Linked DNA regions of Homo sapiens. The protein of the gene in region 2 interacts with the protein of the main gene of each other region in a pairwise test. Each region holds a gene or a part of one and is shown on either strand. Other genes may lie near its edges. The genes, in order: ZFYVE27 and SPAST.

What was found.
Region 1: the proteins of SPAST (region 2) and ZFYVE27 interact in binary tests that used the Homo sapiens proteins (3 or more experiments, as listed by UniProt).

What each region holds. Positions count from the first base shown.
Region 1 is NC_000010.11:97,753,390-97,761,699, reverse strand, and holds the end of ZFYVE27 (protrudin), read right to left. Parts: intron 6,974-8,310; coding exon of another isoform or gene 6,948-6,973; exon of another isoform or gene 4,436-6,947; coding exon 4,389-4,435; intron 4,059-4,388; coding exon 3,977-4,058; intron 3,833-3,976; coding exon of another isoform or gene 3,822-3,832; exon of another isoform or gene 3,519-3,821; intron 2,465-3,518; coding exon 2,400-2,464; 3' UTR 805-2,399; downstream 1-804. UniProt on the Homo sapiens protein: Key regulator of RAB11-dependent vesicular trafficking during neurite extension through polarized membrane transport. Promotes axonal elongation and contributes to the establishment of neuronal cell polarity.
Region 2 is NC_000002.12:32,136,556-32,143,555, reverse strand, and holds part of SPAST (spastin), read right to left. Parts: intron 6,994-7,000; coding exon 6,918-6,993; intron 6,680-6,917; coding exon 6,588-6,679; intron 6,448-6,587; coding exon 6,368-6,447; intron 1,653-6,367; coding exon 1,610-1,652; intron 221-1,609; coding exon 141-220; intron 1-140. UniProt on the Homo sapiens protein: ATP-dependent microtubule severing protein that specifically recognizes and cuts microtubules that are polyglutamylated.

The DNA.
Region 1 (8,310 bases), on a different chromosome or scaffold from region 2:
GCCCCATGCCTCCCGTCGACTCTCTCATTTCTCTCACAGCACCCGCACAAGCTATGCATCACCATCAGGTGCACTTTCCAGAGGAGGAAAGCACAGTGAGCCTGGGGGCAGCATCCCTATGCCAATGGGCCCCAGCACCGCTCCAACAGATGGTAAAGGGGTCCAAGCATGGAGGTGGGCCACAGCAGGCGCCAGGCACCACCCTCTACTGCTGCAGGGACTCTGCTCCTACTTCAGGGGAACAGTGCCTACCTCAGAGTTGCTGTGAGCAATAAATGAGATACTGCACGCAAAGCCCTCACCAGTGCCCAGCACCCAGCCACCCACCACCCACCTGCCCCAGCTCAGGGCATGGCTTGCACTTCCCATCTCATGTCCAATCCTCTTTCCTGCTGCTCTCAGCCTCCCTGAAGGCTGACCCTTTCTGGCTTTCTCAGAGGGATTAGTTAAAATCTTTCCGTTGTAAAGCCTGCATTGTTTGGGGTTTACCAAGTTCTAGTCCCAACCCCAACCCCCAGTGCTGGGCCCTCACAATTGGGTCACAAGACTGGGCCTCAAGTCAATCCGACAAGCATTTGCTGAGCCTCTCCTGCGTGCAAGGCACAGCTTTCCTCCTCTTGGCCCCCAGCTCATACCCAGACCAGGCTGCAGCCCCCACGCCCCTGCCACCATGGTGCCCCAAAGGCCCGCCCCTCAGCCTGGTCCTGCAGGAATTGCCCAGGCCTGCAAAACTCCAGCAGTGCCAGAGAGATCTGGTCTTCCAGCCTCAGGGAAAATGCCAACACAAAGACATGACAAAAACAAGAAGCTTGAGGCCTTTTTATTGACAATTCTCCATAGACACAGAGATCCTTTTAGTTCCTCTCCAGTGTAAAGAAAGCACGGGGTACTGAACTCTCCTCTCTTAAAAGGACACAGAGGCGATACGATACCAAAGCCTGTCTGGCTCCCCAGGGCTGTGGCACCTCCACTGGCCTGGGTAAGCCCCTGGCTGCACAGCCCCAGCTAAGCTGCTTGGCTCGGCAAGAAAGCGGGCCTAGGATGGGTCCCTTGCCTCCCCAGCCTGCCTCTCTGGACCCCTGCTCCTCGAGTGTAGAAACCTCTCAGCCCCCTCATGGGTCCTGGGTCCCAGGCAGCCCATGACTCCAGGGAAGAGTCCTAGGTAGAAGACCCCCACCCCCAATTCCTCCTCATCCCATTACTTGTGCCACATGTTCCCAGGAACCATGCAATAAATAAATAAATACTTGAGAAAGGCAGGGCAGCTCCAGGGAAGGGAAGGGATGCCTGAGCCAGCTCATGGCTAAGGGAGAGATACTGAGCCCGTAAGAGTCCAGTAGTGAACATGAAACTGTTGGAAAGAAATGGAGACCCCCAGGGGGCCTTATCCCATAACTGAGACTGTCCTCCAGGGAATAGCCCTGGAATCCAGGACCCAGCCCAGCGAGATCCTACACTACCCAGGCCCCCAGGGGTCAAGGGCTTCAGGACCTCTGCTCCACTCACCTGGCCTCCCACTCCATTGGACAAGAGGCAGGGAAAGGAAACTGGAGTGCTGGGCCAGTGGAGGACTGCCCTAGACTCTGGACAGAGGGTGCAGAAGTTGTGATCCAAGTGCCCTGCAGCTGCTCCAGCGGAGCTGGGGACACTGGGGCATTGTGTGGGCTGAGAGTCTGTGAATTGAGGTGTCTTCGAGGGGAGGCCGAGGTCTGTCCAGCTATTGGGGCTTCCCCAAGCTTTCCTCCACTTAACGCTGAAGGACTCAGCCAAACCCTCCTATACACATTCTCCTCTCAGGGAATCTGGGAACTTCAACCCTGTTTCTAGAAGCACCCATGGTCTTGTTAGGCCTGGCCACACCCTCTGATGGGGAAATGATGAGATCCTGGTGCCTGGAGGGACATTCAATCAGCAGAGATGGGGTGTGGCACTCCCAAGCCCTTCTGCAGGCTCTCTGAGGCTGAGGGCCTGGCCCAGTACCCTGCAGGAGAAAAACCTCTTTTCCCAACCTCAGGTCTGGAATTCCCAGGCACAGCCACACTGACCCTGATCTTCAGACCCCAGTCAGGCCTGGCCTAGTTCGCTGCTGCCCTCTGGTGGCTACTGCCTGCCCAGCCCTAAGTCCACTCGCTCAGTCCCAGGCAGAGCAGGACAAACATGCCAGGCCCTCCAGGGGCTCTTCTCCCTCAAGGGATTGAGAGCAGCCATTGCCAGCCACTCTCATGGATGGAGAACAGCTCCAGAATCCAGCTGGAGAGAGTGAGGAAGGAAGGGGAAGCCTACCTAGCATTCAGGCCACATTTGCCCAGCACACACCACAGTGGGCCAGGGGTGGGGAGAGTGGGGGGTCTACTGCTGGTCCCAAGGACGGGTGCCTGGTTGGACCCTGGCCTCTCTTCTCACTTGCTCAAGGTCTGGTTACACGAGGCACACACAAACACAGTCTCCCTCTGGGCTTCAGGGGCTGAAAAGGAGGAAGAACTTGGTGAGACATTTCCTTGCGCCCTTTGGTTCATGGCCCCAACTACTAGAAGCACCCTCCCAAATGCCCCACACAGACCCCCCACCCAGCCCACACCCTCCCTGCCCAGCTTGCTAGCCTGCCCGCAGAGATTCTTCTTTCCATGGGAACTGGGGATCCTGGGGGTGATGATGCCAACAGCAGGCCACTCCTGTGCTATGAATTAGACATTATTGTGGCACCAACAGAACACCTTCAAAAATTTTTAAATAAAATATTAAATACAAAAATTAGCCAGGCATGGTGATGCACGCCTGTAATCCCAGCTACTCAGGAGGCTGAAGCACAAGAATTGTTTGAACCCAAGAGGCGGAGGTTGCAGTGAGCCGAGATGGCGCCACTGCACTCCAGGCTGGGCGACAGAGCGAGACTCTGTCTCAAAAAAACAGAATAAGTAAAATATCACAGTGAAATTTCCCAAAATGTTTTAACAGTGGTTACCTCTGGGTGGTAAAATTACAGGGTTATTTTTCTCTTCCTTCGTCCTCTGTATAATAATTTCCAAATTTTCTAGTTAGTAAGCATATGTTACTTGCATCGGAAGAAAAAAGAACTTGGGCTGGGGGCGGTGGCTCACGCCTGTAATCCCAGCACTTTGGGAGGCCGAGGCGGGCAGATCACCTGAGGTCAGGAGTTCAAAACCAGCCTGACCAACATGGAGAAACCCCGTCTCTACTAAAATACAAAATTAGCCGGGTGTGGTGGCGCATGCCTGTAATCCCAGCTACTCGGGAGGCTGAGGCAGGAGAATTGCTTGAACCCAGGAGGCAGAGGTTGTGGTGAGCCAAGGCCGTACCACTGCACTCCAGCCTGGGCAACAAGAGTGAAACTCCGTCTCAAAAAAAAAAAAAAAAAAACTTGGTTTAACATTATACTACAAAACGGTACATGAAATGTGACCACATTTTTCAGGAATATGCATGTGCTTTTATTCTACATGCAAGCTAATGAGCAGCAGGGTCCATGCCCGATTGTTCTCTCAGGAAGAAATCAGGAATTTTTTTTCCTTTTGCTTATCTGTGTTTTTTATTTACAATATGTATAGGAAATATTTTATATTTTATAAAAGGAAAAAAAGGAATTTTTAGTTTTGTTCAAAGTGCCAAGGAAATAAGAAAAAGATTAAAATTGCGGCTGGTGATTGACTCCAGGAAGGCAGGAGCAGTGCTGGGAGCTGCGGGGGTGTTGCCAGGGCTCTTGTTTTTCAACTTTAGTGAAGCAGCCACAGGTATTCATCTTGTTATTACCCTTCACAATTCACAGGTACATCATATCTATTCTTCGGCATGTACCAAATGTTTCAGGATTTTGCTAAAGGGGATGGAGGAAACGTTCCCGTAGGCCTGACTACAATCCCAAGTTCCCTTGACCTCTGACACCCTTGCCTCTGTGCCACAGCGTGACATCCCCTGGGCGGGATACCAACCAAGCCCTCCCACCACCTGCACCACTCACCTGTGGCCCCCATGGAGGACTTGGGCACCTTGAAGGAGCAGCATCGAGAGCAGAAGCTGTTTCCACAATTACTGCAGCTCCGCTGCAGACAAGAGCCAAGGTCAGATGTGTCCCTCACCCTCAGGTACCTGGAGTTCTCAGCACCTCCCTCCTTTCCACCAGCTGATCCCACCCAAGGAAACTGGGCCTGGGGGGTGCCCAAGTGGAGCAGGAAAGAGAGCAAATGGAATACCCCCTGGGGAGGCTGGTAAAAGGTGGCACAGGCGCAGGGGAGGGCACACTCACTCCAGAAAGCCACTGCCAGGCCCAATGTGACCCGAGCCAGACTTTCTCAATGACTCCCCTCAACTCCTCCCCACCCGACAGTCCCAAGGACACTGTCCCCAACAAATGCACCCTCACAGACACTCACCCTCTTCTTCAGCACTGAGAAGGTGGCCGAGCAGCCCGTGCAGTTCCCTGAGAAACAGAGGCAGCAGCTCAACCCCCGCCCATCCCAGGACTCTCACGCTCACCTGCTCCTGGCGCTTCTAAATGGGACACTCAGGACACCAGCCCAGCCTCCTTGGCTGGACACAGTGAGCCAGGGAGCAAGGCCAGATTCAGAGACAGAAAGAAGGACTCAAACTAAGAAGACTGATAGCCCCTGAGGACTGATGTCTCCAGCCATACATAGCTACCAGTCCCTGAACCCTTCCAGAGCTGAGTGGCCCTACCTACAGGTTCAACAGAAATCAAAGAGCACCCAGCAGAATCCACTCCAAGAAAGCCAGCTAAGCTGGCAGGGACCTGACCACAGGCATCCCCAAATGACACCTGCCTAACATGACCCTTTCCGGAGCAATGCCTTACAAATACTCCACCCACAGGCTAAAGACAGAAACTCCTAAAAACCTAAACTCCTGCTTTCTGTCCCCTGAAGACTGCAGGAGAGAAACTCAGAGCCAGGCACATTCCAAGAAGACATGAAGGGTAGAATGCTCAACTGTAAAGACACGAAGGGTAGAATGCTCAATTGTGGTGGGCAGTGAGTGGCATGGGGGGACGCAGAGCAGGGAGAGGTCCTGCCTAAACCACCAGAGATGCCAAGATGGCCAAGTGCCCGGCAACAGTGGAGGGGCAACGGCAGCTTAGAAAATGGCTAGAAGACAACAAGGGGGTGTAAGGGGAGAGGAGAGACAGAGAATGAGGTTTCTGGGATGTGGGGCCCATAGGCCTGCTATGACCCAGCCGGACCACCTGTCTGGGCAAGTACAGAGCACCAGGCCTCACTTTCACAGAAAGGCCCCAAAGCTTTATTGACGGCTACATGTGGTCCCTTCCTCTGTCCAGCCAAAATCACCTGAAGTTCTTGCTAAAGGAGACTCCCTAGGTTCAGGGAAAGGAAGACCTCTGCTAGAGCCAGGGGAAATCTGAGGCCAAGGTGCTTCAGGTAAATGCCCACCCTGTCAGTCAGCCAGGGAAAGAGAAGAACAAGCCTACTGCTGGTGCCAAACCAGGAAACTGGCTGCTCCAAGATTCTGTCCCTACACCAAGAATTTGGGGAAGGCAGCCTGCCCCAGCCTCTCCTTAGCAAGGGACACAAGGGGAATGGGACAGGCAAAAGGAGCTACTCAAAGACTGACACTGACCTGAGCCCAAGGTCTCCTCTAAACTGAATGGAATGTCAGGGCCAAGCACCCCAGGGCAGCCAAGTGGGCTGGGGAGACAGCTGTGAACCCACTCACAGACCGGAGCCAGGGAGGGCTCTGGGAGCTGAGAGCAGCTCAGCCAGGTGACGTTCCCTTCCAACACCTACCAACTCTTTCTGCCCCTTCTCAGCAACAGCCTGGACTCACCCATCCTCACTCACCACGTGACGATGCCACCGAGGCCATGACAGCAGGGGCACTAAGGCCCAGTGGGGCCTGCCAGGGCAACAGTCATGGAGCCTCCAGGACAAAGGGGGGCCCTCCCCACCAAGACCTCTCCCATACGGAGGCCACAGAGAAGCTCCTTTGCAGTCTGCCCTCATTCTCCCCATGCACCCCCTCATCCACTGGCAGGGGTAAATAGAATAGCCCCCACCACAGTCCCCTAACATTCACATGTGGAATCCTAACACCCAAAGCAGGGCCCCTGGGAGGTGACCGGGTCATGAGGGTGGAGCCCTCGTGAATGGGATTAGTGCCCTTATAAAAGAGGCCCCAGAGAACTGCCGTGCCCCTCCCACCTTCTCATGAGGACACAGTGAGAAGGTGCTGTCTATGACGACGGAAATGGACCTCACCAGAACCTGATCCTGCTGACACCCTGATCTTGGACTTCCAGCCTCCAGAACTGTGATGAGAGATTTCCATTATTTAAAAGCCCCCCAGCTTAGTGTATTTCGTTATAGTCGCTGAAATGGAGAAAGCCCCCAAAGCAGCTCCCCTCGCCCTGCTCTCAGGACCCAGGTTCAGGAGCAGAGGCCGCAGGAGCAGAGCTGCTACACCTGCCCTCATGGCAAAGAGCTTGGGAACATCTCAGAAAAGGGAAAGTAGCAAGTGGTCTTGAAGGATGAGGAACTAAGAGGAGTTTAGGAAAAGAAGCACTTTCTGCCCTTGCCATCCTTGAGGGAGGCTGAAAAGGCCTCTGCCCATGCTGGTAGAGATTATCCAAACCAAAAATCAAATACAAAAGCGGGACAGGCATAAAACAAGGGACTTCACACGCAAGGGCAAAGGGAAAACAGAGAGGGAGGATGAAGAGGTAGAAAGAAGACAAGAGCCGAATCAGACAACCTGAATTTGAGTCACAGCTCCACCATTTCCAGGCCAAAGTCTCTGGGCAAAGCACTCTTTTTACCTCAGGTTATTCATCTGTAAAATGGGAACAGCTAAGTACCTTTACTTAGAAGTTGTAGAAATAGACAAATTATTTGCTGGACCAGAGTAATACTTCTTGTGTGTAGTGTTACCGGGCACTGCTGGAATCTGGCTGCTCTGAACCCTTAAGAACTGCCTGCTCCTGTCACACCTACGGTAAGGATGAAATGAGATCACACATGTGCAAGTATGGAGGGTAAACAGATCACTGAACATACAGAATGCCCTGCAGAAGTCAGCAGGCAGCATAAATAAAACAAAGGGGCCGGGCGTGGTGGCTCACACTTGTAATCCTAACACTTTGGAAGACCAAGGTACAAGAATCACTTAAACCCAAGAGTTCAAGACCAGCCTGAGGAACAAAGTAAGACCCTGTCTCTACAAAAAAAATTCAAAAATTAGCCAGGCATGGTGCTACATGCCTGTAGTCCCAGCTACTCGGGAGGCTGAGCTGTGAGGATCACTTGAGCCCAGGAAGTCGAGGATGCAGTGAGCTGTGATCATGCCACTGCACTCCAGCCTGGGAGACACAGTGAGACCTTGTCTCAAAAAAAAAAAAAAAAAGGGATCTTGAATAACTGGGGGACATTCACACAGCAGAAAGAAAGAGCCTGTCCAGGACATCTAATCCTGAGAAAACAACTGCCCTGGCTGCTGCAGGGGTAGGAAGGCAGGACCCTGGGGGCCCTGAGTCAAATTCCTCAAGATAAACTCCATTGTCTTCTTCCAGGGCACAGACCCTAGAACTCACTCAACACCAGAACACACAGTACTGCCCCCTTACCCTGCTCCCATCTGACAGCAGGCAGGAGGGCCCTTCCTCAGGAGCACAGCAGCTCCCAGGTCAACCTAGCTACTCTAGGTTTCCACCATAATTGTATGTGGCTCAGCTCTCAGCGCTGCTGATCTGAGCCAGGTCTCTAAGCTGTGCTGTCAAGTCCACCCTTCTCCAAAGCTGCCTTCCTTGACCGCTCTCCCCCGACCCTCAGTAAAATAAGGACTGGCTGGGGAGAGGTGAACTCAGGGCTCTATCACGTCCAGAGAAACAATGTTTGCTTCAACTTGCTTCCAGCTGGATAAGAAAGACCAAGACAGGATCCTAGGAACCCACAGCGTGGGTCAGGGCCTCCCACATTAACCGCACCCACTACTTACTATGAACCAACCAGCACTGTGCTAGCCCTTCGTAAGTACTACTGTCTCATTTGACATGAGACCTGTAACAACCCTATGAGGTAAGAATGATGATCCCCCTTTTACAGAAGGGGAAACTGAGGCACGGGGTGTGAAATAATTTGCTCAAGGACACCTGGCTGAGCTGGGATTTGCAGCAGGCAGTGAGACTCTACTCTGTTCCTCACCATCATGCTACACTGCCTTCTGAAGTTCTGTCAGGATTATGGTTCTCTACAGTCCTGGGATGGCATTTCCCAAACTGAGTTCCTTGTCTTCCCACAACTGAATGTCCAATCAGGATGGAGGGACAAG
Region 2 (7,000 bases):
AGGAGGTAGAGGATGAGAGAAAGTCTTCTGATCAATGAATTACTCATTTCATACTTAAGATTACTTTAAATAACTAAAAAAAGAATTATTTACAAAAAATAAATAAAAGCTGTAAGATAAACCAAATCCAAATTACTCACCTAGCAAGTTGTGCTAGTTCTTTTTGGGTCAATGGACTTCCTTGTTTACATAACAGATTTTTAAGCAAAAGTAGTCTTGTCTGAAAAATATTAAAAAATGATCATTCAGTCTAATTTCAGAATTAATGATTCTTTTCTTTTTTTATATTGAGACAGGGTCTTGTGCTGTTACCCAGGCTGGAGTGCAGGGCACAATCATAGCTCACTATAGCCTCGATATCCTGGGTTCAAGCAATCCTCCCATCTCAGCCTCCCGAGTAACTGGGACCAAAGGCACGTGCCACCATGCCTGGTTAATTTCTAAAAAAGTTTTTGTAGAGACAGGGTCTCCCTATGTTGCCCAGGCTGGTCTTGAATTCCTGGCTCAAGCGATCCTCCCACCTCAGCCTCCCAAAGTGTTGGGATTATAGGCGTGAGACACCACACCTGGATAAAAACATAGCAATAATTCACCACACTTGAATAAAAACATAGCAATAAATATTTTGCTGCAAAAAACCAGTTTTATAGAGGTATGAATTCATCTACTATGAATTTCACCCATTGTAAGTATATAATTCAATGAGTTTTAATACATTTATAGATGTGCAATCATCACCACAATCCAGTTTTAGAACACTTTTTAGTTCACTCATACCTGTTTGCAGTTAATCCTCATTCCCAACTCTCACCCTGACAACCCACTGATCTGCTTTACGTTTCTAGAAATTTTCGATTTCTGGCCGGGCACGGTGACTCATGCCTGTAATCCCAGCACTTTGGGAGGCTGAGGAGGGCGGATCACACCATCCTGGCTAACACAGTGAAACCCGTCTCTACTAAAAACACAAAAAATTAGCCAGGCCTGGTGGCACATGCCTGCAGTCCCAGCTACTCAGGAGGCTGAGGCAGGAGAATCACTTGAACCCAGGAGGTGAAGGTTGCAGTGAGCCGAGATCACGCCACTGCACTCCAGCCTGAGCGACAGAGCAAGACTCCATCTCAAAAAAATAAATAAATAAAAAATAAATTTGCGTTTTCTGCATATAAACAGAATCCTATGATATGCGACATATATCATCTTGCTTCTTTCACTTATAATGTTTTGGAGTTTCATTCATAAAACTTAATATATGAAGTGAGTATGCAGCATGTATAATGGATAACAGTATCCATTAAATGAATATACCACATTTGTTTATTCACCAAAATAAACATTTTAGATCATTTGTAGTTCTGGCTATTATTAATATTGCTGCTATAAAAATTCTTGTACAAGTCTTTGTGTGGACATACATTTTTGTTTCTCTGGGGTAAATTCTTAGGAGTGAAATTGCTGGCTCTGACAGTAAGCTTATGTACATCTTTTTAAGAAACCACTAAACTGTTTTCCAAAGTAGCTGTACCATGGATTGGAAGACTTAATATTGTCAAGATGGTAGTTCTTGTTTCTGCTCTAAAACAAAAAAAATTCAAACACAGATACATACCTCCTCATTTGGTAAAGACACATATACCCGTTTGATGAAACGCCTAAAAAAAAAAATCCAGCACTTTTAGAAATATAATTTTGAATTTAAAGCTGAAACAGCAAATGACAGGAAAAGCTTTTAAAATATAATATTCAAGGCACTGGAATGCATTTTGGTAGTTATCAATGTAAAAATATTTTTGTTACTCTTTTAAAACTCTAGTTAATGTTTAAAATCCTTAATTCGGTATTGTTAGAATTAATCATTTATGTATGTATATGTTTTTAATAGCAGTAATGCTTTAAAACAAACAAAATATCTGATATAAGTAGATCTGTCTTCTTGAATCTGAAAAAAACTAAAATCAGCAAGGATAATAGAAACAGAAACATACACTTCATCAACAAACTAGGTAACATTTATGGAACTAAAATACATAAAGGTGAACTGCCTAGGGCAGTGAAAATTACACTGACAAAGGAAGACACACAAAGGATCTGCCGCTAAAGATCATGGACATGACTGTCAGAGTACAGTTTTCCTCCCAAAAAGAGATAGCACACCCTAAAGGGTAATAAGGCCAGTCCCTCCACATTTAAACAAGCATATGAAGCCTGGCTCTGCAGACCATATAAACCCTAATTGATAGCATAGGAATGGCAAGGAAGGTGAGAATGAACAAAGAAACTCTAAGACGAATTATCTTTATAAGAAGGCATCTAACAGTCTGGCGGGAAGACAATGTCTTGCAGTGACCAATATTTTTTAGTAGAAGAATAAATCAACCCTATCTCTTATTTACATACACATATACTTCATTATTAGGTAGGGCTTCACTGTAAGTGAGGGAGGCTGCATGCTAGTTTAGTGTATACATGGACTACTCAAGATACCTATCCCTTCCCCTACAATATCCTTCCAAAACTAGGTTTTCCAAGAAAACTCCTTTTATTCAAAGAAAAATAATAAGCAAAAAAGGAAAAACCAGGACAGGGCTCATTTAAAAAAAAAAAAAAAAAAACAACAACAACAAAACCTGCCCCCAAAAAAGAGCAAACAAAACACAATAAACATAAACTAGATAAAATGAAGAACATGCATGAGAAGATTTTGCCATAGAGCAAACTAAAATTATGACCAAGTATCTTTCCACGAAATAAAATAATTTAATTTTTTAAAAATTTAATTTTTTTTATCCTTAAGTTTTTTTTATAGATATGGGGTTTTGCCACGTTGGCGAGGCTGGTCTGGAATTCCCGGCCTCAAGTGATCTGGCCTCCCAAAGTGCTGGGATTACAGGTGTGACCCACCATGACGCCTGACCAAAAAATTTTTTCTTTTTTTTTTTGAGACAGAGCCTTGCTCTGTCCCCCAGGCTAGAGTACAGTGCCGCCGTCTTGGCTCACTGCAACCTCTGCCTCCTGGGTTCAAGCGATTATCAGCCTCCTGAGTAGCTGGGATTACAGGTGTGTGTGACCACACCCAGCTAATTTTTTGTATTTTTAGCAGAGACAGGGTTGTACTATGTTGGCCAGGCTGGTCTCAAACTCCTGGCCTCAAGTGGTCTGTCCTTGCCAAAAAATTGTTTTCTATGAAACAAGAGCCCAGTGAAATGTAAGAGCTTATGGAAATAACATACAGATGCTCAAAGAAATAAAACAGAAGATGAAAAGTAGAATAACAGATGTCAGGAAAGTAATGAATAAAAAACCACCAAGGAAAGAAGAGTTACAAAAGATATAGCAGAAAGGAGATTAGATACTAACCCAGTAAGAAATAAAGGCAACAGGCTTGGGAAAACAGAACAAAACAAAAAGACCTAAGAGTTTAAAAGGATGAAGAAGAAAATTACAGATAGGGAAAACAAAAGGACGCAACATAACACATAATTTATGTGCAAAAGAAAACAGAAAAATGAACTAGGGAAAAAAATTAAGATAAATTTCCCATTTTAACGATATTGATTCTTCCAATCCATGAGCATGGAGTGTTTTTCCATTTATTTGTGTCACCTCTGATTTATTTTAGCAGTGCTTTACACTTCTCCTCATACAGATTCTTTCACCTCCTTCATCAGCCGTATTCCTAGGTACTCCATTGTCTTTTTTTTTTTCTTTTTTTTTTTTTAATTTTGGAAACGGATTCTTGCTCTTTCACACCCAGGCTGCAGTGCAGTGGCACGATCTCGGCTCACTGCAACCTATGCCTCCTGGGTTCAAGCAATTCTCCTGCCTCAGCCTCCCGAGCAGATGGGATTACAGGCGCCCACCACCACGCCTGGCTAATTTTTTGTATTTTTAGTAGAGACGGGGTTTCACCATGTTGGTCAGGCTGGTCTCGAACTCCTGACCTCAGGTGATCCACCTGCCTCAGCCTCCCAAAGTGCTGGGATTACAGGCATGAGCCACTGTGCCCAGCCATTATTTCATTTTCTTTGTGGCTATTGTAAATGGGACTGTGTTCTTGATTTGACTCTTAGCCTGGACATTATTAGCGTATAGAAATGGTACTAATTTTTTGTACACTGATTTTGTATCCTGAATCTTGGGGTAAAATCATTTATCAGTTCTAGTAGCCTTTTGACGGAATTTTTAGGGTTTTCAAAGTATAGAATCATATTGCCAGTGAAGAGTGAGAGTATGATGACTTCTTTTCCTATTTGGATGCCTTTTGTTTCCTTCTCTTGCCTGATTTATCTGGTCGTAAAATGACTATACTGCCCAAAGCAATTTACAGATTCAATGGTATTTCTATCAAACTATCAATGTTGTTTTTCACAAAATTAGAAAAAAATATTCTAAAATTCATATGGAAGCAAAAAAAGAGTCCAAATAGACAAAGCAATCCTAAGCAAAAAGAACAAAGCTGTAAGTATCACGTTACCTGACTTTAAACCGAACTACACAGCAGCCCAAACAGCATAATTCTGGTATAAAAACAGACACACAAACCAAAGGAACAGGACAGAAAATTGAGAAATAAAGCCACACACCTATAACCATCTGATCTTTGATAAGACTGACAAAAACAAGCAATGAGGAAAAGGACTCCCTATTCAATAAATGGCATGGGGATTACTGGCTAGCCATATGTAGAAAAATGAAACTGGACCCTTACTTTTCACCATATACAAAAATTAACTCAAGGTGGATTAAAGATTTAAATGTAAGATCTCAAAGTATAAAAATGCTAGAAGAAAACTAGGAAATACACTTCTTGACATCAGCCTCAGAAAGAAATTTTGGCTAAGTCCCCAAACACAATTGCAACAAAAATAAAAATTGACAAGTGGGACCTAATTAAACTAAAGAGCTTCTGCACAGCAAAAAGAACCATCAACAGAGTAAACAGACAATCTACAGAACTGCATCTAACAATGGTCTGATATCCAGAATCTATAAGGAATTCAAACAATTGAACAAGCTAAAAACACACAACCCTATTAAAAAATGGGTAAAAAGGAAATGAATAGACACTTCTCAAAAGACATACGAGGGGACAACAAACATGAAAAAATGCTCATCATCACTAACCATCAGAAAAATGCAAATCAAAATCACAATGAGATATCTCACACCAGTCAGAATGGCTATTAATAAAATGGCAAAAAAAATCCCATATTGTCTACAGATTGGCGGGAAAAAGTAAAAAAATAACAGATGTTGGTGAGGTTGTGGAGCGTATGTACTGCTGGTAGGAATGTAAAGTTCAGTCATTGTAGAAAGCAGTTTGAAGATTTCTCAAAAAACATAAAACAAATCTACCTTTGACCCTGAAATCCCATTACTGGGTATATACCCAAAGGAAAATAGATCATTATACCAAAAAGACATGCATTTCATGTTTATTGCTGTACTATTCATGACAGCAGACATAGAATCAATCTAAGTGTCCATCAATGGTGGACTGGATAAAGAAAATGTGGTACGTACACACCATGGAATACTATGTACTACGCAGCCATAAAAAAGAATGAAATAATGTCCTTTGCAGCAACATGGATGGAGGTGGAGGCCTTAATACTACGCCAATTAATGTGGGAACAGTAAACCAAATAGCTCATGTTCTCATAAGTGGGGAGCTAAAAATTGAGTACACATGGACATAAACATGGGAACAATACACACTGCGGACTACTACATGGGGGAAGAAAGCAGTGAGGTGTGGGTTGAAAAACTACCTACTGCACCCTATGCTCACTACCTGGGTGCAATATACCCACGTAACCCATCCAGTAAAGAGAGAAAAAAATCAAGTTATTTTACAAATTTGAAAAAATCAATTTGGATTCAGACTTTTACACTACTACAGCCAATCTAGAAACAATGGAGCAATATTGTAAATTCCTTGGGAAAGGATGCCCAAGAATTTTATGCTGACCCAAACCGTCCTTCCAGTATGAAGGGAATAAACTGCTCAAACACACAAGAACAGAAAACACATTTTCCATGAACCCTGATTTGATTATTTTCTCATGAAGCCCAATAAAAGACGGTAAGAATCAATTTTCAAGTTTAAAGATAATTTAATGCAACCCAGAAGAACTGACCAATTTGCCTAAAACCGTAACTAAACCTTTACTAGACTAATTCTCCTGATATCAAGCTGTTGACCTCAAAATCCTTATGTAGTTGGTAACAAGAGGCTAGAGATAGTACTGGAAGAAAATAGTGAATTTAGTCTTAAAACTGAGAGTAAGGAAATAATATGTAAGATGGACACATGAGTAAATATTGTCTGTAATAAATGCATGTATTTCCATATAAATCTCCCTACCTGAGAACAGCCTCATCAAGCTCTTGTGGCCTATTAGTTGCACCCATTACAAGTACTCTGTCATCTCCAGCAGACTGTACCTACAAGCAAAAAATCTTTTTTCAATTCATTTAGAAAAGTAATAACAAATATAAAGATATTTGTATTTTTAACCTTGGCCATTTAATAGGAAAATATACTAAAATGCTGCCACATTAAAAATATCATAATCAACACTTACACCATCAAATTCTATTAGAAATTCAGTTTTTAGGCGTCTACTAGCATCGTGCTCCCCTTCTCTTCTTTCACACAAAAGGCTATCAACTTCATCTAGAGGAAATACAAGTATAAGACTTTAATTAAAGACCAAGCTATGTGAGTCATCTGAGATTAATCTAGTTTACTACTTATTAATATAGTGGGTCCTACTAAATTCATTAGATAGTCTTTAAGCTTGCCCTTCTTTAAAACTTCTTCCTTCTGAATAATGTTTCCAATCGTATCTTTCCTATTTGGAGAGGGAAATTTCACAAATAGTCAATAACTTAGTTGGAAAATATGTTCTTACCTATAAAAATTATAGAAGGTTGAAGTTCTCGAGCCACAGCAAAAAGAGCCCTCACCAATTTCTCTCCTTCTCCCACCTAAAAC